Linked DNA regions of Homo sapiens: regions 1 and 3 are each linked to region 2. Evidence: fine-mapped expression QTL. A gene starts in region 2. Each other region holds a variant in brackets. All regions are shown on one strand. Distances are from middle to middle.

Region 1 (10,898 bases), 87 kb before region 2:
AGATTATAAAGGCTTAATATTAAAACAGAGTGATGTAATCAGCAGTCAAGCTGGAACATTCCAGAATCCTCAACCCTTTTTACCTCCAAGGATGTAGTGGTTACCTCGAAGACAGGTCAGACACACCTGCCTATATCCTTTCTCTTTGTTCTTTCCTCTTGTCCACCTTGGTGGTTCTCAAAGAACTCCTGAACAGAGCTATATCCTCAAAACTATATTCACTATCCTTTATGGATAATTTAAAGGATTTCCAAAAATAATTCTAATTTTGTCTTAAATACTAACTGTGTCCGGAATTGGTGGGTTCTTGGTCTCACTGACTTCAAGAATGGACCCTCGCGGTGAGTGTTACAGCTCTTAAGGTGGCGCGTCTGGAGTTTGTTCCTTCTGATGTTCGGATGTGTTCGGAGTTTCTTCCTTCTGGTGGGTTCGTGGTCTCGCTGGCTCAGGAGTGAAGCTGCGGACCTTCGCTGTGAGTGTTACAGCTCTTAAGGCGGCGCGTCTGGAGTTGTTCGTTCCTCCCAGTTGGTTCGTGGTCTTGCTGGCTTCAGGAGTGAAGCTGCAGACCTTCGCGGTGTTACAGCTCATAAAGGCAGTGTGGACCCAAAGAGTGAGCAGTAGCAAGATTTATTGCAAAGAACAAAAGAACAAAGCTTCCAGAGTGTGGAAGGGGACCCGAGTGGGTTGCCACTGCTGGCTGGGGCAGCCTGCTTTTATTCTCTTATCTGGCCCCACCCACATCCTGTTGATTGGTTCATTTTACAGAGAGCCAAGTGGTCTGTTTTGACAGGGTGCTGATTGGTGCGTTTACAATCCCTGAGCTAGACACAAAGGTTCTCCAGGTCCCCACTAGATTAGCTAGATACAGAGTGTGGACACAAAGGTTCTCCAAGTTCCCACCAGAGTAGCTAGATACAGAGTGTCGATTGGTGCATTCACAAACCCTGAGCTAGACACAGGGTGCTGATTGGTGAGTTTACAATCCCTGAGCTAGACACAAAGATTCTCCACCTCCCCACTAGATTAGCTAGATACAGAGTGTCAACACAAAGGTTCTCCAAGTCCCCACCAGAGTAGCTAAATACAGAGTGTGGACTGGTGCATTCACAAACCCTGAGCTAGACACAGGGTGCTGATTGGTGTGTTTACAAACCTTGAGCTAGACACAGGGTGCCGATTGGTGTATTTACAATCCCTTAGCTAGACATAAAGATTCTCCAAGTCCCCACCAGTCAGGAGCCCAGCTGGCTTCACCCAGTGGATCTCGCACTGGGGCTGCAGGTGGGACTGCCTGACCATCCCACGCCGTGCGCCTACACTCCTCAGCCCTTGGGTGATCGATGGGACTGGGCGCCGTGAAGCAGGGGGCGGCGCTCGTCCGGCAGGCTCCGGCTGCACAGGAGCCCACCAAGCGGTGGGGCCGGGGAGGCTCAGGCATGGCGGGCTGCAGGTCCGAGCCCTGCCCCGCGGGAAGGCAGCTAAGGCCCGCGAGAAATCGAGCGCAGCGCCGGTGGGCCAGCACTGCTGGGAGACCCAGCACACCCTCCGCAGCTGCTTGCCCAGGTACTAAGCTCCTCATTGCCCAGGGTGGACAGGGCCAGCCGGCCGCTCCGAGTGCGGGTCCCGCCGAGTCCACACCCACCCGGAACTCGCGCTGGCCCGCAAGCACTGCGCGCAGCCCTGGTTCCCACCCGTGCCTCTCCCTCCACGCCTCCCCGCAAGCTGAGGGAGCCGGCTCCGGCCTTGGCCAGCCCAGAAAGGGGCTCCCACAGTGCAGCAGTGGGCTGAAGGGCTCCTCAAGCGCGGCCAGAGTGGGCGCCAAGGCCGAGGAGGCGCCGAGAGCGAGCAAGGGCACACGCTGTCACCTCTCATAACTATATAATCCATCGTCCAAGTAAGATGTGATTCCTCTGTTCAAGAATTTATTGTTGTAGGGGAGAGGGGTGGGTGGGGAAGGAGGAGATGTTGATCAAAGGGTGTGAAGTTTCAGTCAGACAGGAGGAATGAGCTTTTGTGATCTATTGCACAGAATGGTGCCTATCATAAATAATAATGTGTATTTCAAAATTGCTAAAAAGAGTAGACTTTAAATGTTTTCATCACAAAAAAAGTACTTAATGGATTTGTTGATTGTCTTGATTTAATTATTCCATAATATAAACATGTATCAAAACATCACATAAATACCGCATAAATATATACAATTATTATGTCAGTTAAAAATAATTTTTTTAAAAAAGTCAAGAAAGAAGAATTTATTGGTGCATGGAGAGGCTTGCATTTGGGGTGGTGACGCATATAACAAGAAAAGCAGACAATATGGAATGGTTCCTAGCCCTGTCTCCACTGATTTAAGAGCTAGTTGCCCTAAAATCTCATTAAACAATTGGGACACAAGGCAATGGTACTTTGGCAACTTTCTAAGTGTATTAAACCAAAATAGAGGATGTCTCCCCAGACTGGCTTAGAGAAGACAAATCTTGGAAGTGCAGCTGAAGGAGGTGGGAAAATAGGACAGGGGAGGGAGAGTGTAGGAGAGCAAGGGTAAGGCCACTCAGTAATTGATGAGACTTGTTTGTGTGTATATATATGTGAGGACTTTCAGACGTTCCAGGAATTTATGAGGCTAGAGTCCTCCATAAGTAGGTAGAACAAGAGCCAATGAACGAGGTTACAGGTAGAAATTCTCACAAACGAGAAATATTTAGGTGGTAGATTTGAGAAGGATTTGCAGGTTTTGTGGGAGTACTAATGTTTATATTTTGGCTATTTGTTTACTTTTGACTTTTTAGATTAAAGCATCTTTAGACATGTCAGTTTATTAGACTGGTTTTCAAATTTACTTTGAATTATATATCTATTGTTTTTACCATTCCACACAGGTCCAAAAATGTCTAAAGAATAGTTGTGTAAAACTTTGCAACTGTAGTGCCTGATAATACATTTTAGCTCCTAATAATTCCAGGATATCAAAATTACTGGCTGATTTTTTTACAATTCCAGGAAATACAGGCAAAAGCCAAACCCATTATTATAGGTCAAGGAGATAAAACACTCAGTTGACTGAATTAGTTTACTGTTCAATCATTACTTTTGACAAGGTAGAGACTAAAAATGGCAATGGAAACTTACTTGCTTATGGTTGTTAAATTTTCTGAATTGGTAAATAATTTTCTGAATTGGTAAAAAAAAAAAGGAAAGCACTTTTCTCCTTTTGATTTTGAAATTATATAGTTACAATGATTCTTATTTTGTACTTTGTTAATTAAGAACTTATACAACAGTCATGTTTCAAAAACATTACAGATTACAATAAAGCCAAGGAAATGTTAATTTTTCTAGAAGAATATCTTAGGAAAAGCTTTATTACAATGGGTCCATTTTTATATACATTACACCACTGAAAATAATAAGCAAGATTGCTTCAAGAGTAATTATCAGAGGATGTTGCATCTTGTCTTTTAGTCATGTATATATACTTTTATATTTCTTTGACATTACAAAATCTAAAATATATGTGGCTAGTAGACACATCCTTAATTTCTAACATATATTCTAGTCCTAAAATTCTATACCTAGGATATTCTATTATCAAAATCTGTCCAAAGGAAAAATAGAAATCATCATCACAATTGATTCTATCTTCTAAGTACCAAAACTGAGTGGCTCTCTCAAATCTCACTATGAGCTAGAACAGAATCTCAAGTTCTTTCTTAGGCTGTAACACAACAGCTAATTTTCTTTTCATCTTCATTCATTCTTTTCCATTTACTGAACAACAATTACTGTGTTCTCAGTCACTGAGAAATCAGAGATAAAGGTCCCTGCTCTCCAGGAGTTTGGGGAGCAAAATAATTTTAATATAAATGAAAAAGCCCTATGAGCTAAGCACAGGATTTACAGTGAGCTCACAAGACAGACAATGAAACCAAACTGGAACATTTCTCTGAGGAGTTGATGCCTGCCCTGAGTTTTGAAGGATATACAAATGTGAAAGGGACAGGAAGGATGTACCAAACAGCAATAATAGAGTGTGTAAAAATATAGAGGCAGGAGAGCACTTGGCCTTTTCCACAAACTGAGGGTGGTCTGCTAAAATTTGAGTGATGGCTGCAGGTAATAAATGGCAGAGTGTATTACAAGATGAGTTTGGAAAGTCAGTAGGGGTCAAATTAGAAAGGACTTGCTCTACCATGCTAATGAGTTAGAATTTTTCTCTAAAGGCAATGAAGAGTTATTAAAGGTGTTAAACTGGACAATGAATGACATGATCTGGTTTTGTGTTTTCAAAAACTTACTATTTTTTAAGCTGAAGAATGGATTTTAATGGGATCAAGGTTGGATTTAAAAAGAGTAGTAGGGTAACTGTTTCTAAATTCAGCCAGTGACAAAAGAAGGGGATGGATCAGAGATATTAAAAATATAACATTTACAGGACTCTGCCACTAATTAGACATAATGTGAAGACGGTACGTTGAAACCAAGACTGTGTCCCAGTTTATCTTGGTTAACTGGCTAGCTGCTCATCCACTGAACAAGAAAGCACCCAGAAGAGGACCAGACTCAGTGGAGACTTCAGTTTTGAACACGTTGGCTTTGAGGTGCCTGTAGCACAGTCGGGATCAAAGGCCCAGAAGAGAAATCTGGGATGGAAAGGTGGGTCTGAGATTCATCTGCATGCAGGTCATAGTTGAAGCCAGCAACCTAAATAAAGCCTTTCACAGAAAGTGTGTAGATTAGAAAGCAAAGAGGTCTGGCCGGGCATGTTGGCTCACTCCTGTAATCCCAGCACTTTGGGAGGTCGAGGTGGGTGGATCACTGGAGGTCAGGAGTTTGAGATCAGCCTGACCAATATGGTGAAACCCCATCTCTACTAAAAATACAAAAATTAGCCGGACGCTGTGGCACACGCCTGTAATCCCAGCACTTTGGGAAGCCGAGGTAGGAGGATCACATGAGGTCACGAATTGAAAACGAGCCATGGCCAACATGGTGAAACCCTGTCTCTACCAAAAAACAGAAAAAATTAGCCAGGCGTGCTGGCCTGGGCCTGTAATTCCAGCTACTCGGGAGGCTGAGGTGGGAGAATCGTTTGAATCCAGGAGGCGAAGGTTGCAGTGAGCCGAGCCCGCGCCACTGCACTCGGCCTCCAGCCTGAGAGTGAGACCTTGTCTCCAAAAAAAAAAAAAAAAAAAAGAAAACAAAACAAAAGAAGAGAGGTCTAAGCACAGACTACTAGGGAGTATGCATGTTTTAGGAAAGCTAAAAGAAGAAGGAGCCAAAAAGATATTCCACAAGCTATGAAAGATTGGTATAATGGGAAAACAAGTGATGAGAATGTTTCATAGACAACATGGCCACTAATGCCGAACACTGAGAGATACAGTGAGAAAATAGCTGAAAAGCATCAGATTTAACAATGAGGACTCTGATGATTTGGAAAGATAATTTTTAATTATATGATGGAAGTGGACTGCAGTGAGTTCAGGTGCAAAAAAGAGAGAAAGAGGTGGAGACAATTGTCATCTTCTTGGGATAATTTCAGTTACAAATGAATTAGAAAAATAAGATAGTGAATAGAGTAGAAGTCAGCGGATAGAATAGAGTCAATAAAGGGTTTTGTAGGGATGTGGGTTTGTGAATGTGTTTTTGCTTTGTCTTATTTGGTACTGAGACAGCAGCATGTTTACAGGCCAAGATGAGATCCTGGGAAAACAAAGGTATAAGAGAGGGAGTAGTCTGCTACAAAACATTCAAAATCATAGGAAGAGGATCAGCAAAACAAATGGAGATTAAATTTCAGACAGTGGGAAAAACAATTCCTCTAAAATGAAGAGAGTAAGCTATGTCCTGGCCTAGACAGAGCTATGTTAATAGAAAGAGGTGGAGGAGGAAATAGGAAGTCGAGAAAATTGTCTCCTGATAGACTTGATCCTCTCTGTGCCTTAGGAGATAAGAAAAGCCATCTGCTGAGAGCATGA[G/A]GAAGCAGGTAGGATCTGGCGAGTGAAGAATATTAAGGTCTAAAATTGTTCAATAGATGGAAGCCCTCGTTTGCTCATTAGTAAATAGCTTACTGGAAAAATAATTTCAAAAATAAAAACATTTGTCAAAATGAAAGAATTAAAACTATTTTTATGACTACTTTCACTCTCTAACTTTTGTTTCTTAATTTCATTTGAATCCTTGATCCCTGCCAGTAAGTGGCACCAGCACTATAAGCATATTCTACACAATCAGCAATGCTTTCTGTACAGCAAATTGCAACACTACTGCAACAAACATAAAAAATTATTGTCCCACTATATTTACCTTATGTATACATTTACCATAAATTCCATTATTTTCCAAGACAATGGAATTCCTTTACGATATTAGTATTGGGAGACAGGCCTAAGGCTACATTAATAGGAAAACTATAAATTTAATTTTTACATTGAAGAGAATACAATGTAACCACAGTGTATCTAAATCCTTTACAAAGAGCTATATTATAATAGACTTCTGCTTATAATTTTCTCTTAACCTTTCATTTTGTTCTAATTCTACTTTAATTGCATTTTGATTATCCAAAAGGGAATAGTAAAATAAAATAAATGACACAATGATTAAGACACGGCAGTAATTTTAGCTTGGATTGGGGATAAATGATATACAACTGAGGTAATTGAAATATGCTATACAAGTGAGATTAAAACTAAAATGAATTTCATACAAGGCTAATAGTTGAATCCCTATGGAGTTACATTCTTAAGCCAAAAGTAATTATCTAAATCTGAGCAAAAACTTTTGGTGTAAGTCTCCCAATAATTTTTTGAGAATATAATGCAATGAAGTATAAATTAATGTTGCCTACAAAAATTAAGCTGAACATTTCACAAAGTAATAAGTTAGCTCAATATATTTTTGTCAAAATCTGTTTCATTCCTATAAGGACATATCACTACTGAGAATGACAAAAGATCAGTCAGAGAATATGGTACAAAATAATGTAGCTATGCCAGTAAACCTTGTTGTTACTATATGATCTTAAATTTGGCACTACTCCTCCCAAGCACTTCTGTAACTGGACCGTATCAAAATTAAATCCAAAGCTTTTTTTTTTGAGACAGAGTCTTACTCTGTTGCCCAGGCTGGAGTGCAGTGGCGCACTCTCGGCTCACTGCAACCTCTGCCTCCCAGGTTCAAGCAATTCTCCCTGCCTCAGCCTCCCTGAGAAGCTGGGATTACAGGTGCCTGCCAACACACCGGGCTAATTTTTTAATTTTTAGTAGAGATGAAGTTTCACCGTGTTGGCCAGGCTGGTCTCGAACTCCTGACCTCAGGTGATCTGCCCGCCTCGGCCTCCCAAAGCATTTTTATTTTACAACAGTCAAAAATTAGTCACTGGCAAAAAATTGTAAACACTTAACCCAATACATCTTTTTAGTATTTACAAGAACTGTACAAGATTTGCACATAGAAAACGTACACATATAATCTCCTAATTATAGTGCAGTGCCTGATAAAATAATAGAAAATGAACTTGTAAAATGGGCAATCTGTTGATGAACTTTATCCATTAAATACTAATGCATAGTTTAAGCAAAATGTTTAATTAAAAATAAAATTCCCTTTTAATTCCCCAGCTTTAGAGTTTATAAATGTAATATACTGTTATAATGTAAAACAAAAATTAATTTGAAAGGAAAAATGGAAAGGCAGTGGGGAATTTCTTTGTTGCCTCTTCTCAACCTTTAAACTTAAGAAGATTAGAGAGTTGTACTTTTAGAATGCTATGTGACACGGTGGTGTATTTAGCAAATGTGCTATCCTTTCCATTCACGGAGCTGTTATAAAGGCATGCCACTGAAATTTTCAGCTCAGTAGCAATTCCATGAAACATTAGGCAAGCATTCAGAAAAGAGCTGGCCAACCTAACTAATGTAGAATCAGAACATACAACAGAGAGAGAGCTAACTGGCTCAAAGACAGACAATTCACACTGTTTTACATTAAAATTAAGTTTAAAGTTAGGGCTAAATTTTATTGCCTGCTCTAATTGAGCTAATCACTCATTATATAGTGTTTACCTTCTTGCTTTTCTTTTTGCTATTGTTTAATTGTAGTTAAAAAAAAACCCCCATGTAACATAAAATTTACTACCTTAACTATTTTGTGTACAGTTTTGTAGTATTAAGTATATTCCCATTGTTGTGCAACAGCTCTCTAGAACCTTTTCATCTTGCAAAACCGAGATCCTATACCTATTGAACGACTCTCCATTTCCCACTTCCCCCACCCCATGGAAGCTACCATTTTACTTTCTATTTCTAAGAGTTCAACTGCTTTAGATCTCTCATATAAGTGGAATCATTACAGTATTTATCTTTTTGTGACTGCCTTACTTCAATTAACATCATGTCCTTAAAATTCATCCGTGTTGTAGCATGTGACAGAATTTCCTTCCTTTTAAAGCTGAATAATATTCCATTGTATGCATATAGCACATTTTCTTTGTCCATTTATCCATCAATGGATGGTTAAGTGGCTTCCACCTTGGTTGTTCTACATAATGCTGCAATGAACATCACGTGAAAATATTTCTTCAACATCCTGCTAATGTTTACCTTTTTTAATCAAATAATTATAAACTACATAAAATCTGTTTACAGAGTATATTATTCTGTAATGATGAGACAGATCTTTTATAGAGAAAGGGCTCAAACGAAATTAGGAACAATTACACAAATTGTAACTACTTAACTGAACAATGACATCAAAAACAAACAATAATGACCTCTCAGATATTTGAAGTTTTGTCTGTTTGTATCTTTTAAGGTTCTTGCCTAGTTGTTTGACTTATTTTAGTAATCAAGTTCAGTTTGTTATATCCAGGCAGAATAGATGCCTAAATGTCATTCTGGGAGAGGTTCAGATGAGGCTTATGTTAAGGGCTGCTTATTAGCCACAGGACTGATCCACGCCCCAAGCTTGGAGGCAAAGGAATCAGAAAGGAAACACAGAAAAGATGAGAAGAGGCCATCAGGGAACTATTTATATTATTTACTTTTGGGTCTGACTTATGCATATTTTTCCATCCTCTCTAAAAATTGAATTTGTCAAAAGACTGTTGAAAATTCAGGTTAAAATGAGTGTTTTTTTAAATGTACTCCATCCTAAAAGATTTTAATTTTAAATCTAAACTACATTCTTATTCACACGTTTAGTAAAAGGATGACAACTATATATTATAAACAATTTTAAGTATTAAGTAAAATGGATTCAGTAAGATGAAATCTCAAAAGGCCTTAAAATATTTGTCCAAAATAATCTATTAGTCCGTTCTCACATTGCTAGAAAGAACTGCCCAAGACTGGGGAATTTATAAAGAGAAGACATTTAGTTGACTTACAGTTCTCATGGCTGGGGAGGCCTCAGGAATCTTACAATCAGGGTGGAAGGGGAAGAGGTATGTCTCATATGTTAACAGGCAAGAGTGTAGAGAAGGAACTGTCAGACATTTATGAAACCATCAGATCTCATGAGAACTCACTATCACAAGAACAGCATGGGAGACACTGCCCCCGTGATCCAATCACCTCTCACCAGGTCTCTCCCTTGACATGTGGGGATTATGAGGTTTATAATTCAAGATGAGATTTGGGTGGGAACACAAAGCCTAACCATACCAAATACATAGTTTTTTTCTGAATCTTTTGCCATGAAATCTTATTTTTATCAGAAATAAAAAATGTGATATAGATTATTTTTTAAGTACACCAAAAATCAGTTAAAAGAGTCTATTGATCGGCAAGTGTCTGAGAATATGAGTTAGAAAAATACTTGATGTTCACAGATCTGGTCAGGTGTGGTCAGAAAGAACAAAATTTGAAGCGTAAATATCAAACAGTGCTGCCATCTGATGAATCCAAGACTTTCTGGTGTCAGGTGAACTTGTTCATCCCTAGAGTGCTGGTGAAAATCTTGTTCTATGCACTGTAATGAAAAGCTGTGTCCTTCTAATGGCTCTATGGTGATTTAGCCTAGATTAAATATTTAATGCTACAATCTTAGAGCAACTAATACTAATTATCTTCCTGTTCATAGTCCCAAAAAAGATCCCCAGATGCCCTCAATCCGGGGCCTTGCCTTCTGGAGCCAGGTTAACATCTGTCATTGAAATAGTCTGGCAGGCTGACGCTGTTTCTTTCCTATCTTGGAGCTACTTTGGAATAAAAACTAAATACATATGCCTGCAGAAACATCAACTAGCACTTCTCAAAAACCTACAAGTAATTTATGAGGATTCCATCTTTTCTGATTTGTCAGGGTATTGAGGGGATTGGAGGAAATGTGAAACTATTTTCAGACAGTATTACTCTCTTTTAGCAGATCTAATTAGTTAACAAATAAGGGAAGCATTTCCCTGGCTTAATGGGAAATGAATAAAAATAAACATAAATAAATAATGCTGGAATGAACAAAGAGTGTGTGAGAATCCTCAGATCAACAATTTAGGCATACTCCCAAATATTTGTTTTGGCAATAAGACAAAACCACCTATTATATTTCAAATAAAGCGTTTTTAATTATGAATGTTTCTTTTTTCCCTCACTTGAAATAAAAGTCAAGAATTCTGCTTTAAATCTTTCATCAAGCAGAGCTGCCCAAGAACCTGATATTTTAACTCTCTATCCAGGTAGTTCTCAAGTTTTGCAAACTTTGCAAAAAATGCATTGGATGTTTATTAATATGCTGATTCAGGGGCCTTAGCCCTAGAGGATCTGATACAGTAAGAATCTGATTTATATTCCTACACCAAGTGATTCTGAGGCAAATGGTCTGAGGAGCAGGATTGGCTACATAATTTGTAGGAAATGAAAATGCAGGCCCCTTGCTAAAAAATAATTGGAAATTTC
Region 2 (5,000 bases):
AGTAGAAAAATCTAAGCAACAACATTTATTTGGGGATTTCTTTGTAGTGTTTTGTGGTATCACTGATGATCAGGTTTTTAAAAAATTACTTGATTCAAAGATATAATCTTGAAACACAAAAATTTACAAATTATCAAAGAAATACACAAAAACATTAAGTATTGAAAAAGGAAAATGTAAGAATTAAGTTTGCAAGCAAACCTGCAAAAATTACAAGAGAGTTATACTTCAAAAGGACTGGCTGGCCAAATAAAAAAACATAGCAAGTATTTTTTTAAAAATCCCACAAAATTACTAAGGTTCTTAGGTTTACATTAGACCATCCATAATGAGAAACAGCAATTTCAGCACTATCATTGCATTCATAAAGATGGTGACATTACCTTCAGGTAGATGTGGCTAGGGAGTCTTGACTTAGGGGACAAAGTCAAGGTTTCATTACTTAAAAGACAAGAACCAATCACCTTTATTTTTATCTCAGGGTACAAAGTACTTTTTTCAATGGTAGAATGTCAAGTGCTTTGTAGTACTGAAATCAGAGGAAAGTGTCCGATTTTGCTTCTACAAAATGCACAATTTTACTTGTTGACTATTTTCTACTCCTCCCTTACCATGAGCACACAGGGCTTCATGTGATTATTTTAAAGAGGATGCATAATTCGATTGCTATGCCTCTTCAGATACCTTCTTTGTGAATTTTTCAAATTTGCTCTGGCCCAAATATTGGTGTTCCTATATAGTTCTTATCCCACCTAATGTACACAGACACCCTTTAATATGTACCTATAATCAACCACCCATGTTAACTTCTTGTTTAACATATTATCAAAGCCAGGCTGCAAGTATAACCCTGTCATTTAAGAAATACGGAAAATAAGAAAAAAATCTTAAAATAAGCTTCATGATGAACTTAAAAAGAATAGTTACTTTAAAAGATGTAGAAACAACATAGATAAATTTAAAGTTTTTAGGGGAAAAAATCCTTAAACCCACGTACTAAATTTTTAATATTTCCACTACAGAAGTTAAATGCCCAAACTGATTTGGTATCAAAATTAAAGTGTCAGAAATAGAATTAAGTTATAACTTTTATTTATCACCATTTTAACATATACTTAAAAGTGGAATTTATTGTTTTGCTGGAATACTTAATAACATTAATTTGAAATAAAGCTTCTAAATATTTCCGGGGCTATAATTCCATTCTTACAACATAATTTTTAAAATAATAAATCATTCCAAAAAAGGATGATCATAAAGAGATTAGCGTTTGGGGTAGTTAACCCAGTTCCTATTTATCTATCCATTCAAGAGGTAACTCAGTTTTAAGGATGTTGTTAGAAACATTATTTCACAGTGATTCAAACCTTTCAGCCTATGCACAACCTACAAATGCATAATCGTTTGAAATAAAAATTGCCTTTCCATCATTAAAGAAAAATCATCTTTGTTTTCTTTTTCAGTCCTTCTGAACTTATTACCCTGCTTGGATATGCTGCACTCTTCTGGACATAGAATTTCATAGCAGGTATCAAAATAACCAAGCCATAAAGCCAGCTTTATCAAACAATAATTTCCTATTAACAAGAACTTTGAGTGTATTACTCATTTTACACAAAACAAGTAGACGACAAATAATGATGGTTAAAATTAATAATTAAATGATTAAATGAAAACTAGTAAGGATTTCTGATTACTTTTCTACTTTCTCATACAGCTTAACACCTGGAAACAACTGTACTGGAGCCACCTTCCCGAAAGGTGCCAGCTGTTTCCTTTGTCTTAAGCACAAACAGAACTAATGTCACATTTCCAGAGAAGGGTAAGGATGAAATAAGGCGACTACAAACCAGCTTTCAGAAATGCGAAGTCAGTCAACGTTTTCCTCTCTGATAACCCCTTATTTGTGGAGCAACAGGAGAATTACAACACATTTTGGAAAATAATTTCTATTGGACCAACTCCTCACTTCGCTGGAAGTAGTCGGATCCAAGACTTAATTTCAACACAGTGTTCGACTTATTGCTTGAAGCTACCGCAGCATAAAACTCGTCTTCGAATGGAAAATTTGACCAACTTCTATGAGGTAAATGAATAGTGAAAGTACGGGTGGGCGGGAGAGACATACAAGTTTTTTCGGTTTTTTGTTTTTTGGGGGAAGAAAGGGCGCATACGAAAAAAGTCCTAAGCAAGCACAGAACTGTGTCTCTTAGGATGTAAAAGGATGTTATACCAGAGAGCTCAAAAGCTCCCAGGGTCACGGCTCCCCTAACCGAGGGACTTGGGGTTTCACTGCTACCAGGCACCCGGGGAACCCCGGCCTTGGATAAAAAGAGGGTAACTGGAGTAAAGCCGTGCTTCTGAACGACCCAGCGCCCAGGACCCCCTGCCAGACCCCGCCTTTCCCGGGACCCCCTCGGGAGCGCCCCCGACCGCCCCGCACGGGTCGGAGGAGGAGGCAGAGAGGTCCCGCGCGGACCCAGGCGCCTCCCGGGCCAGTCGAGGATCAACCACCCCGGGGACCCCTGCCGAGGCCAGCGCAGGATAAACTCCCCGACCCCGAACTCTGCCTGCCGCTTCTCGGCGCTGGGCCTCAGCCACGGGTTCGACCGTCCTCCTCACCGCGGCTCCCGCCTACCTCGCGCCTCCCGGCCCCGCGACCTCCCCGCCGCCGGCCGGGCCCCGCCGAGGCTGCGCTTCCCGTAAACTCCCCGCCCCGCGCATCCCCCTCCTCGCCTCGGCCCCGCCCCCGCGGGACCCTGGGCGGCGCGTGATTGGCCCGGCCGCGCCGTCACTCTCCGGCCGCGTCGCCTCCCTCGCTTTCCACCGCCCCAAGACCGGCAGTGAGATTAGTGCTCGCGGGGCCGCGGCGGAGTGTACCGTGCTGCTCTACTCGCTGCCATTCGCCCGCAGGTCGGCGCGCTCGCCCACCTGAGCCGCGCCGGGGCTGCGGGACCGTGGGACAGCGCGCTCAGCCCAGCCTAGGAAAGAGGCAGCAGTCTCAGCGCGGAGATGGGGAGCGGGCGAAGTTGACGAGTCTCCCGCCCACGCTGCGCCCCTCCTGCCCAGAGGTGCGCTGCCCCTCCCCGAGGTGCTCGCGCGCTGCCCTGACCCCTTCCTGCGCGGGACACCCCTCCCCTACCCACGGGACCTGATAACTTCACCCCAAGTCCAGAGAGTGGGCTGCGAGGGCGGTGCCCGGACTGGACAGGACTCTGCTTAAGGGGAGCGGTCCTGGAGGCTCGCCAGGAGTCGGAGGGCGGAGACCCGCTGGAAACTTTATCATCGCCGTAATTACTACGTTTTACTGTTTCTCTCCCCGCAGGGGCTGCAGCCAGCGGTCTGTCGCGCGTGCCTGTGTGCCCGAGGAGCCGCCCCGGGGAGAAGACCCGGCGCGGAGTTGTTCCCCCAGGGAGGATCCGCAGCCCAGCCGAGGGGGTCGGGCGGCCTGGCTACGCAGGACCCAGCCCCGCAGCCGCGGACTCCCAGCGGCGGCGAAGTTTGGCTGCTGAGCGGCGCGGCGCCGGACCACTGGACAGCGGGAGCGATGCCCGTGGGGGGCCTGTTGCCGCTCTTCAGCAGCCCCGCGGGCGGCGTCCTGGGCGGGGGGCTCGGCGGCGGCGGTGGCAGGAAGGGGTCGGGCCCCGCCGCCCTCCGCCTGACGGAGAAGTTCGTGCTGCTGCTGGTATTCAGCGCCTTCATCACGCTCTGCTTCGGGGCGATCTTCTTCCTGCCAGACTCCTCCAAGCTGCTCAGCGGGGTCCTGTTCCACTCCAGCCCCGCCTTGCAGCCGGCCGCCGACCACAAGCCCGGGCCCGGGGCGCGCGCCGAGGACGCGGCCGAGGGGCGAGCCCGGCGCCGCGAGGAGGGGGCACCCGGGGACCCGGAGGCCGCCCTGGAGGACAACTTGGCCAGGATCCGCGAAAACCACGAGCGGGCTCTCAGGGAAGCCAAGGAGACCCTGCAGAAGCTGCCCGAGGAGATCCAAAGAGACATCCTACTGGAGAAGAAGAAGGTGGCCCAGGACCAGCTGCGTGACAAGGCGCCGTTCAGAGGCCTGCCCCCGGTGGACTTCGTGCCCCCAATCGGGGTGGAGAGCCGGGAGCCCGCCGACGCCGCCATCCGCGAGAAAAGGGCAAAGATCAAAGAGGTGAGTGGGCCGCGCCAGAAATCCCTCCCGACCGGCCGTGTTTTTCAGGGAGAAACGGCAAGCCTTTGAAACTCTGAAGACTGCAACAATGCAATGTATGGGGAGATGGAGGTTTGCCCCTTCCACCAGGTGCTGTGTCAAAAGCTCTTTCTTTTCCTGTTTCCAATATAGTAGTAGATGTGTCCAGTAAGATCTAAGGTCAAATCTCGTTGCTTTTAATTTGCATGCTCTTGCTCTGGTGACCACAAGCCACACGAGGTGGGTATAAATACATGGGCAGGTAATACGCAAACCTCATTCTCTGGCCGCTACACGGTTAATCGCCCCACCAGTAACAGCGACGGCACTGATCAGCCCCCTGGTAAGGATTGGGGACGTGGCTTTAAAGTGAGTCTTCACGCGTGGTAAAGCTAGCCAGCATACCCCGGGTTCAGCTGTGTGGCCCTTGTCTGCCAGGTGGCATTCTGTGTGTACTTTCAGACTATAAAGGTGAAACCTGAGAACTTCCCATCATCGAGGGATACTATTGTTTACTTTTTTAAAAAATGAAAATATAAAAAGCCAGTCGGCTGCCTCTTGTATTTCTAATGCACAGCCAGAAATAGGGTATTCCATGTGATGCAACAGGTTTGCCTCCACAGCAGCACAATGGTGACAAAGTTAATCCAGGATAAACATGGACTTTGATACATCTTTCCTAATTTCCTTCTCGTAATTTTCAGTTAGAACTTGAAACATGTGATTAGGTCAGGACCAGCTTAAAGCTGAAGGGGGCCGTAAAAAGTCCTTTCAGGCTGTCATTTTCAAGATGAAGATCGAAGGGCCCAGAGCTCTAGAACCCGTTAGTGAT
Region 3 (10,898 bases), 290 kb before region 2:
GCAAGTTTGTGTTATACTATATATTAACAAATATATCACACATGTATCTGACAGGACTATCTCCCGTAAGTATTACTTTCCTGAATGTGTAGAGGACACTCAGCTAAATTTGAAAGTACTCTTCAATACACAAGCAAGTAAAAAGATTAAACAGGCAAACATACTCCATGTCTGACCAATTAAAAATGCTTTTTAAGTTTTAGGTCACAACTTATATTAGCAAATCTCTCCTCTCTTCTCCTCCCCTTCTTTGCCCTCCCCTCCTTTGCCCTCCCCTCCTCTCCTCTCCTCTTTCTCTCTCTGATACAAGCAATAGTTTTGCTGTGAAATTAATATTTTAGCTAAGCCATAGGTTATCTTTATTCTTAAGAGTTAAAAATGTCATATTATACCTTTCAACTTCCCTTTATCAAGCTCTAAATAGAAGGGAAGTACAGTGAACACATTTCAAACACACAGAGATAAAATTAGGCAAAAGAAGAGCAACAGATATATGCAGAGTCGCAACAGATCCCTTCATTTTTGCCAAAGATGTTTCTGCAGGGTACCTCTATTCTCTACTTCTGTTAACTTAATAAATGTCTTAACTATGTCATTCACATAATGATATTGGGAGAAAGATTCTGGCAGACCCACTCGAAGATGTTAATAGAGTGCCTCAGAAAATAAATATTATTTTCATTTATCTCATTAATCCTGGCTATTCCTTCCTTCCCTTCAGCCAGGCTGCGTCAGAAAGGCATGTACTTTATCCATATGACAGAGTTATAGGAAAATTGCCACTCACACTTATAAAATGAGCCATTTTCATTTTCTGACAACCATTTATCTCTCTGCCATCAGGCAATATCTAAACTTTTTATGTGGGCCTTATCTTAAAGATGAGTTCCTGTTGAATCTCAGAGGTTGTCAATATATTTTTAACCTTTGAAGGAAATGCTGTCTTTCCAAAACAGCCACATTTTATTTGCCAAGAGTGATACTGTACTATGACCACTAAAACAATTATCCAAAAACTTTGGCAAGCTACTGTATTCTGCTTTTTGTAACATGACCACATTACTAAGTAATTCACGAAAAATGTGTTTCAAATGAATGCAGTATCATTGAACATTAACACTCGATAAAGCAGACAGGGAGATTGCAAAACTTGTTATTAAATTTAGATTTAAATAATCACAAATAACAAAACCATAATAGATTTTTAACTTCAAACTTCACCTCCCAAACTTCCACTTTTGTTCTTTTTTACATAAAGATACCAAAATGTATGCAATTTACATACACTTCTGCTACATTCCAGTTTTTCAAATTACCATCATTTTCACCTCACCAGTTTCTGTATCCTCTTTACTACAATTTGTCCTAACCTTCTTAGTTCTTTCCCTGATTCAAACACATATTTATCTGTAAGCTACAGCATTTTTGCTATTCCAGGAAATTTTTACCCCTAAATTGGTGAGTCTTTGCCATTCTGCTTTCATTTTAATGAGAGTTTATAAATTGTTTGTTACTATAGCCTGTTTTATTTCCCCCACAATATTAGCTGTATCCAAAAATCTTTTGCTATGTGTAGCATATGCAACAAACCTTATTGATCAGGCTTCTTCTTCCATTGGAAGATCTTCAATTAATCAATTCCCCAACTCATATTGACTTTAACCAACAATTTGTTTGTAAAGAATGCATTATGAGATCCTTCATGACAAGCTTTTCTTTTTTTCCCACAGCATCTGTGCCGTATTTTCATTTATCATTCTGATCTCCTCTCTTCCCTCCACTCTGCTACGTGCCTTGGGAAGCTGATCTGCACCAACAGGCCCCCTTGGTCCCTAACTTCCAGTTGGGGTCACCCAATGGAGAGCATCTGCAGGAGCTTGGCAAGTAGGAGGCAAGTGAAATTGAGGTCATTATGCCCCTTGCTCCCCCTTCTGATCTCTGCATACTGGTTGACCCTGCTAGGCAAACTTCTCCATACAGCTACCCTCTTCTGATTCTTGTCACCACTCTATCTCATTGCCACCTCAGCTCTAGGGGTGGAAACAGCTTCTCATTTTGGTAGCCCTTGGATTATGAACTATCTCTTCTACTTTCATAAGTGATCCCTCTATTAAAATTACTTCAATCTATGCAAACTGAATGTTCTTCTAAATGCCATACCTTCTTAAAGGCCTTTGAAAATACTCTGAAATTCAAATTCTATTTTGTACATGTAGGTCCTTTATCATCTTACTTTCCCAGTTTTGTATTGAAGTCATTAGTCTTAAAAATTTGTATATTTTGCTTACAGTTTTCTGTCTAAAAATCTTTGCATGATTATTGAGAAAATCTGAAAATTATGAAAGAGAAAAATACATGTATTATGCCAACACCAGCACAAATGTTTTGAAAAACTTTTCTTTGTATGAAATTTTACACAGGTATACTATATCTTATGTTCTTGTTCAATATCATATCATAAGAAATTATTCACATCGTTCAAAACTCTTTATAAAAATTATTTTCAGAGACTACATACAATTTTCTCTCTAAATATGTTATAATTTACTAATTTTCCTCATGCTGAATATATACTGTAGATTGTTGCTCATATTCACCATTCTTAATAACACTTTTATAAACATCATTATGTGCAAAATTTCTTTAGGTATTGATTCTTAAAAGTGGAATTAATCAGTAAGTAGTTATGAATATTTTAGTCTATTGATACATATTATTAAATTGCTTTCTAGAACATTCTCACTTCCATTAGTATTATATAAATGAATGACTCACTGACCCACATTAAAATTCAGTACATTAAATCTTTAATATTTTCTATAGGTCAAAAATTGGTGCTCATTGTTCTTTTAATTTGCATTTCTTTAATGGGTTGAACATTTTATTTTCTCTTTATCAATTATCAGTTTAAGTACTGTTGTAGTCCTATTGTTCATCTAATTTATGTAAGCTCTTTATACTTTAGGGTTATAAATTCTGTTTTTAATGATATTCCTTGCAAATATTTTCCCCCACCCCCGAGTTGAAGCTTGTCTTTAAATTATGGTTTGTATTGTTTGTTTTTAAGTACCAAAGTTGTTTGAACTTGTTTTTAAAGTCTGTTATAATTTTTTTCTTTATGATTTCTTCCAGTGCTTTTAAGGCTATAAGTCCTTCCAAATCTAGACACAGAATAGATGTTAATCTTTTCTATATTTTCTGGCTTGATTATTTTATTGTTATTTCTGTATTTCTCTCTGGAATTTGTTTTGGTAGAGTATAAGATAAGATCTAAACCAATTTTGTTTCTTTTTCCTATTTTTTAAACAAATATCAAAGTAACTATCCCACCATCATTAATTTATAATATTTCATTATTTGTGTCACCTTATATTTACTAAGAACTGTTTGGCTACCAATTTTTCCCTTCATCTCACTTCATTTTTTATAACACTATTCTGCTAATTTATCATATTTAATATGTCTTCATGCCTAGTAATGCCAAAAGAAATTAGTCTTTTTATTCTTCAATTATCTTCAATTGAATTAAACATTTATGTATCACACACTAAGACCAGAAATTCTGATTTGTACTACGTGGCATACAAAAAAATAAATTCAACATGATCTCAAGAAGTTTACAAAATAGTTGGAGAGAAAAGACATAAATACAAATAACTACAGTACAAGTAGAAGGAAAGTGGTATCAGAAAGTTATGTGGTTCTATGAGAGAATTGAGGAAGAAAATGATAGACTAGAATCAACAGGAAATCCTTTGTGTAGAAGATGGCATTTGATCTAGGCCTTGAAAAAGAGCTGGGATTTCATCAGGAAAAAGTGAGAAAGAAGAGCATGTCCATCAGGGAAACCAAGATAAGTGAAGCCATTAAACTAGGAGAATGGAAGATTCATTTGGGCAACAGGAAACAATCCAGTATGGTAAACATGTATGGGGCTTTAGGGAGAAGACAGAGGACCCATTACAATTTTTAGCAGGGGCCAGGAAAGATCAGAGCAGGTAACTGACTGTATCAGGCCTCCAATGCACAGCTATCTACCTTTTCTGTATTACCCACTCTCTATTTTCTACAATAATTTCTCTTCAGGAAAACCTTCCCTATTCACTAATTTTTAAACAATAGGAAACAGAATCTCAACCAGAACCCAACAGCACCAGCAATTGGTCTCAGATGCTGCCTCAGTGTTGCTATCGATGGTATATCGGGTCTGATTTTCTTTCTTTTCCGATAGCCTTGAAAGGCTTGCTTGAATTCATCTGGGCAGTTATCATTCTTTGGGCTCTGCTTTAAACAAATTTTGAAACCTTGAAATGACTCCAGCAACATCTGCTTCCCTCTTAATCTGCTTTTCAAC[A/G]GAAGGCATTCTTGCGGCCCTGTATGTGCCCCTTTAACCACGCTGGCTTACCAAATGTAACATTCAAATATTTTCCTGAGCTCCGCGTGTAGCAAGTCATTGACCATGGCTTCATGCCTGCAGAATCTCTGCTGGTCACTATAGGCTAGCCTCTGTTAAAGTAGCAAATAAACCACAAAATATTATTGGTTTAGTCTAATTTCAATTTATTTCTCATTTGGACATAGCATGGCATTGATAGGGCTGCCCTCCTTCAACTTGTAGCTATTCCAACTGCAATGCTTGACCTTCAAGATCACTGCAGAAGTAGAGAGTAGTGGAGAGAGAGGTCAAGAGGAATGTTTTAAGGGACATTTCTGCCTTCATCTCACTAGCTAAAACTCAGAGGTATTGCCCCAACTTAAGTGCCCAGAAAAAGGAAATGGTGTAATTAAGCACAACAGGCATCTGCTTCAGAGTTAATACCATTTAGACCCTCGCTTTGGTTTGGTTTCATACTTATATCCTCTAGTCTAAAACCACACCCTATGTTCCTTCCCCTATGACATTTAATAGAGAACAAAGATTCCTACATCCTGATACATTTTCCTGGAGGGAATGAACAGAACTGTTCTGTACAGTGTTCTATTAAGTGCTCTAAATCCCTTTTTCTTCTAATGGCTGTCATTAAAATAGCATCAATTTTCTGAAAGCTAACATTGACATCAAATCTGAATTATTAAGAATATGTTCCTTGAGTTTATTATAATTGACTTTAATCAGGGTTCCATTACATACTGCTCTCTTCCCAGAGAGCTACTTTTATGCAGTGAAAAATATGACTTCTGGACAATTACTCCTTTCAATCAAATTTTAGGTTGTCTACTCCACTCCCAGAGGTTGGATATTTTTATTTCTATATTTTCTCAACCATTTTGTTATGTAAAAATAAAATAAAATAACATAACAGCCTCTACTTCTCTCCCTTTTCTTGCCCTTCTCATTGTCTCCTTGCCTTTCTTTCTCCATCCATTCTTATTCTCTACTTCCGCCCTGCCTTTCCTCTTATTCAAAGTTCTCATGCATGGCTGGCTTATGGAAGTTTTGGAAGGAAGGGCTTCTGATAATTTCACTTTTTCTGTTTCTATGATTTTTCTCTCTTCATCAGAGATTACCTGCCTTAGATCCACATATTTTCATTGGCACCCCCTCCACTTCCTGAATTTCTACCACATCTCAGTCTCCTTCTTCAGACTCCAAGGCCAGATTGAAATTATTCACTGCCACTGATAAAGCTAAAAGAAAGTCCCTGCGAGCTTAGTGGGCAGATCTAGCTTTATTTTATAGTTAGTAAAATTGAAACATGGAGAAAATAAGCAAATACTTTTAAAATTAAATGCCTTATACCCTATATCAGGAGTAGGCAAACTATTGCCAGTTTTTTACAGCCCACAAGTTAAAAATGGCTTTTACAGTTTTAGAGGTTGTAAGAAAAAATAAAGAATAACATATGACTGAGACCATGTGTGGCCCACCAGGCCTAAAATATTTACTAGCTACCCCTTTATGAAAAAGTTTGCTGACCTCTATTCTCAACTATAGCTCTATTTATTTGATTTATATAATCACAAAGATGCTGGGTAAGTTTGGGTCCTCTAGCAAACAGATATCAAGAAAGAATTCAAGGGCAAGAGATTGATTGGGGGGATAGGAAGTAGAAGTAATCAGGGAAAGCCTTCAGGCCAAGATGCAAAGCTGATACCTGCAAAAGGAGAGAGGGGAGGAAGGGGGACTCATTAGGAAGCATCTCAGATACAGTAGGGCTTTGAGAAAGTTTGAGCCAACCCAATGGGAAACACCAGTGCAAAGATCACACATATAGAAGCCCCATATTGGGCAGAAATTTCCAGGCCCTATGCTCAAGCATCAGCTGGGAGCAGCTCATGGGAGTATGGTCTCAAAGTGAAAGCTGAAGCAGATCCCAACAGTGTGGCAGATGGAGGTTGTCAGCTCCTAACACTCCTCATAACAGATTCTTAACCTAAGTCAGTTTTGTCTCTCTGCTGTCTCTCCTACTCCACTACTTTTGTATGCCAGAATTCAAATATCATTATCACTAGTGATCTAATTTAAATTTTCATTCAAGTGTATTAGAGACCGTGTGAATGAATAATGATGAAAAAGTAATGTAAGCTGATACCGACTTCTCCAGTATGTTTAGATTTTGCACATAACAATATTATTTTTTCTCTATTAAAAAAATGAAGATAGCCTTTAAAAATAAACAACTTGTATTGCCATGGACTATTTTTCCTAATCTTATTTAAAGATGAAGATGTTAACAAGATTACACTCAGCCAGCAGCACTCACATGATGGATGCATAAGCTGCGATCACTCAGGGCTATATAACCTTCTCCAGGACCTGTCATTACTTTGTAGTCTACAGAACACTGCACTAGGTCACCCATCTCTACTTGTTAACATGTTGTCATACTGCCTGCTGGCATCACTTACCCAGCTTCTGGTCTGTCACAGTTATTCTTTAGCCATCACCTGTGTGTACCCACCTAAACATACACACACAAACACACACTACTGTGTGTCTGCTCACTATGCCATCAACACCCTCATGCACTCTTACCTGACTGTACCTGGGACCCTCCCCTTGCCTGCACTGCCCCTCTTCTCATGTAAAACTACTGCCTATCTTTCAAGGTTTCAAAGTTCAACTCAGGCTCTGCTCCCTGTGTAGACCTTCCCTGGCTACTCTGGCTCTCAAATATTTATCTGTCTCTGACCTTCTACAGCTCTTTAACACTATGCTGGGCACTTTCATGCCACATATGTAAGTCTTGCCTCATCAGGTAGCATTTATGTCCTCATGATGACAGATTATTTCTTGGACTGCCTCTGTGCCTCTCACAGCACCTAGCTGGCTCTCATCCATAACTATCTGGATGGAATACCCTACCTTCAAACTCCCTACCCTTCCTTCAAGGCTCATTTCAAATTCCACATCATCCGAATACTTTTTCCAAGTCCAACTTAAGACTGCTTGGATTTTTAATATACTGTATAATTCTTTCTGCTTTGAAGCATAATTAGCTGCTTATATAGTTTTTTTCTCTATCATAATTAGTTTATAATATCTTAGAGGACATATTCATCTATGTATTCTCTATTATACTTTATTCTCTGCATAAACCTAACCTTCAGTTTTGGATTAGTTGAAAGAATGATTGAAGAAGATGGTAATAGTTGAAGCTTTGTTGAAAAAGCAAAGTGGCGTGAAAGAAAATGTGACCAGTAATGGGAAAAATCTTCAACTAAAAGCCAGTGGTAGACACTGATATGGTTTGGCTACATGTCCTCACCCAAATCTCATGTTGAATTATAATTCCCAATGTTGGGGAAGGGACCTGGTGGGAGGTGATTGGATCATGGGGGACTGATTTCCCCCATGCTGTTCTCATGATAGTGAGTTCTCACAAGATCTGATGGTTTAAAAGTGTATGGCACTTTCCCCCTTGCTCTCTCTCTCCCTCCCACCACCGTGTGAAGAAGGTGCTTGCTTCCCCATCACCTTTTGCCATGATTGTAAGTTTCCTGAGTCCTCCCAGTCATGCTCCCTGTTAAGCCTGAAGAACTGTGCATTGATTAAACCTCTTTTCTTTCTAAATTATCCAGTCTCAGGCAGTTCTTTATCGCAGTGTGAAAACAGACTGATGCAGATGCTGACTAGCTTTAGGGTCTGCAAAAGCCAAGTAACTTCTCTAAACATCAACTTTAGCATTTGTGAAAATTTGTGGGTATAATAAACTGTAACAAATAACAATGTTTAAGAGCACAAGCTCTGCAGTATTTGAATCTCAGCTTGGCCAATTATCACTTAGGAAGTTATCTAACTATAACAAGTCTATTTTCTCACTGGTAAAATCATCATAGTGCAAAATGATAGCCTACTTCATAGTGTCATTCTAAGAATTTAATGAAACAATGTATATAATGATCATCACAAAAGACCCAGAATATAGAAAACTTGGTATGCCTGGCAGGTATTATTATCATTACTATTACTATTACTATTATTATTATTATTATCATCATCATTATCTAATATTCTTTTCAGGTGTAAAAGTCAATGATTTTATGACAGCACATTCAATAGCATCATCAATCTCTGAATACATTCTTACTTGAAGACTCAAGTAAACACTGAACTGATAATTTGTTTGCCTATTAACATAAGTAGGTTTCCTAATAGCGATCTCTAATTTTTAGACTATTGGTATACTACAATGAGAAATCCACAGGGAAATTAAAATATACTTGATTACCAGAACTCACTGTTGACTATTTTAGCAAAGCCTTATAAAAGAGAACAATCAAGATGGCCACCATCATAATACACTTAGAACTAGTGTTGATGGTGGCAGACCCAAAATATATTTAATCAAACTGACTTATGTTCAAATCCCAGCTCTACAATTACTGCTGTGAGAACTCTGACCCTTTATAAATTGCTAAATTCCTTGTGTTTGTTTCCTTGTCTGCAATCTATGATAATAATTACTGTAAATTCAAAAAGTTATAAACATTAAATAAATACACGTAATGAGTGTCTGGCATACAATAAATGCCCAATATGTGTTGGCTATTATCATTATCCATTTGTTAAACATCATTATCCATTTATTTGTTAAATATTGTATACACAAGTACTGTACTCTGTGCCTGCAAAGTTCACAAATAGAAAGTATTATTGTTATTATTATTATTATAGCTGCTGCTGTAACACATGTAAGACTGTTGTGTGGAAATATTGATCAGAGAAGAAAAATATATATTAGAGCAAGAAAGACAAAGCATCAAGGTTCAAGTATAGAAGTTAACTTAGTAAATTCAGGGGAAAAAATTCAAATTATGCTGACCTTGAGGTAGCATAGAGAGAGAAACAGAGAAAGAAGATCTGTAAGCAGGCCGTAACAAGGGAATAAGACCAAACAAAGAGAGGACAAGGAGAGAATAGTGAAATTACTTTCATTTTTTAAATCACAGAGTAAGAGAAGCAAAATCATCATGGAAAATGATCACATAGACATAAAGGCTCAGGCAAAGCTGCTCTGTGTGTGTGCTGTTGCTGCTTTCCCTGCCTATAGCATCCACACCTATGCTACCCACATTAGAATTATAAATATAGATGCAAATGAAATGTAGTTATGGATGATGTCTTCAAGAGCCATCTGGGAAGAATTTGTGTCTAGACAAAGAATGATGCCATAAAAAAAAGGAATATGACATACTATAAAAGGCTAACTTGAGCCTGTTGCTCGAGAAAGCATCCTGAGACTGGTGATCTATAGCTCCTTCTGATAATTTTGGATGACATCAGTATTAAGCAATAAATTTTAAAGTTATATTTCCAAGCTGTCTCAACCAGCTCACTTGCCAGCACTGATGAGTGGAAGGAAAACATGGATGTCAGGGACACACAACTGGAAGAAGTTGGGTCTCACTCTCTATTGCTTGCCTGCCCTCCAACCTTTACCACTACCACACCCACCTCCCAACCATCACCCCCACCTGTCCAAGGTTGGGCACATTAGGGAAATAGTAGAAAAAGAAACAACATGGACTTCTTATGGTCCTCTTAAAGCATGGGAAAGCTTAGCAGGAAAATGAAGACCATTGATAATACATTCATCCAGTTTTCTAATCTAAGATACCAAAAAATAATCCACATGACAAATGTAACAAGTTAACTTTGAGAATAATTTAAAGCATTATCTAATAATAATCGGATTATATTAAATGTGTTGCTATTTATGTAACTTTTTAAAGATAAACAGGATTTCAAGAAACTTTCCCACTGGCATAGGATCATTGTAGACTCTATCCTTTCCCTCCACCACTTCTTATGCTCTCCTCTGTCCCTCTGTTACCCTCACCTTAGATTCCTGAATAAATGTGTGATTTCACGTACTGTTGAGGCCTTTGGTAGAAAATTTTAAGAATCACAGGATTTTGCTTCCTTTGCATCACAAAGACAAATACCCTTAGATGAATGTGTTGGTGCAGAATGAAAAGTTTCTCACTTCCCACACAGTATTTTAATAAGCAACGGTTAAAAACCTCCCTCTACCCTGCGGTTCTTTGATTCTGCATCTGTCACTACCTTTGTGTTACTACATTTGTAAATTTCCCTCTTTTGAAAGTCATAATCTGTCCCTCATCAACCACACCACCCAACAGCTTTCCTGATGAGAATACATAACTTTTCCTGTTTTGGTCTCCTGATTAGGCACAGGAGAATGTAATACCACTTGCCTGTTTCCCCCCTCAGTGAGATGGGAAATTGCTATTTTCCTCTATGTATCCAGAAGCCATTCGTGTGGAGCTGGCTGCGAGGCTTCTATCTTGCTGCTCAGCTATAATCTCTTTCTTTTATTTAGTGATTTCCTAAAACTTGGCTTCTAGAGAAATCACCCCAACAAGCTGTAGTCCATTTCGAAAGCATGCAGTCATTTTGGAATTTTCTACAAATATAGCAGTAAAGGCAGTCT

The links.
Region 1: its variant is fine-mapped to the expression of MAN1A1 in whole blood (TOPMed, PIP 0.95).
Region 3: its variant is fine-mapped to the expression of MAN1A1 in whole blood (TOPMed, PIP above 0.99).

What each region holds. Positions count from the first base shown.
Region 1 is chr6:119,431,806-119,442,703 of GRCh38, reverse strand. No RefSeq gene overlaps it. Among named protein-coding and RNA genes, the nearest start is that of MAN1A1, 87 kb to the right of the region's middle. The variant G/A (reference allele first, on the strand shown) is at 5,982.
Region 2 is chr6:119,347,613-119,352,612 of GRCh38, reverse strand. It overlaps MAN1A1 (mannosidase alpha class 1A member 1), which reads left to right and starts at 2,852. Exons shown (of 13, transcript NM_005907.4): 1 at 2,852-3,071; 2 at 3,326-4,150. The coding sequence starts at 3,548. RefSeq lists silencers at 2,292-2,931, 3,442-3,641, 3,702-3,821 and an enhancer at 4,032-4,381.
Region 3 is chr6:119,637,552-119,648,449 of GRCh38, reverse strand. The region is part of intron 2 of LOC105377975 (a long non-coding RNA gene); the gene reads right to left. Among named protein-coding and RNA genes, the nearest start is that of MAN1A1, 290 kb to the right of the region's middle. The variant A/G (reference allele first, on the strand shown) is at 4,355.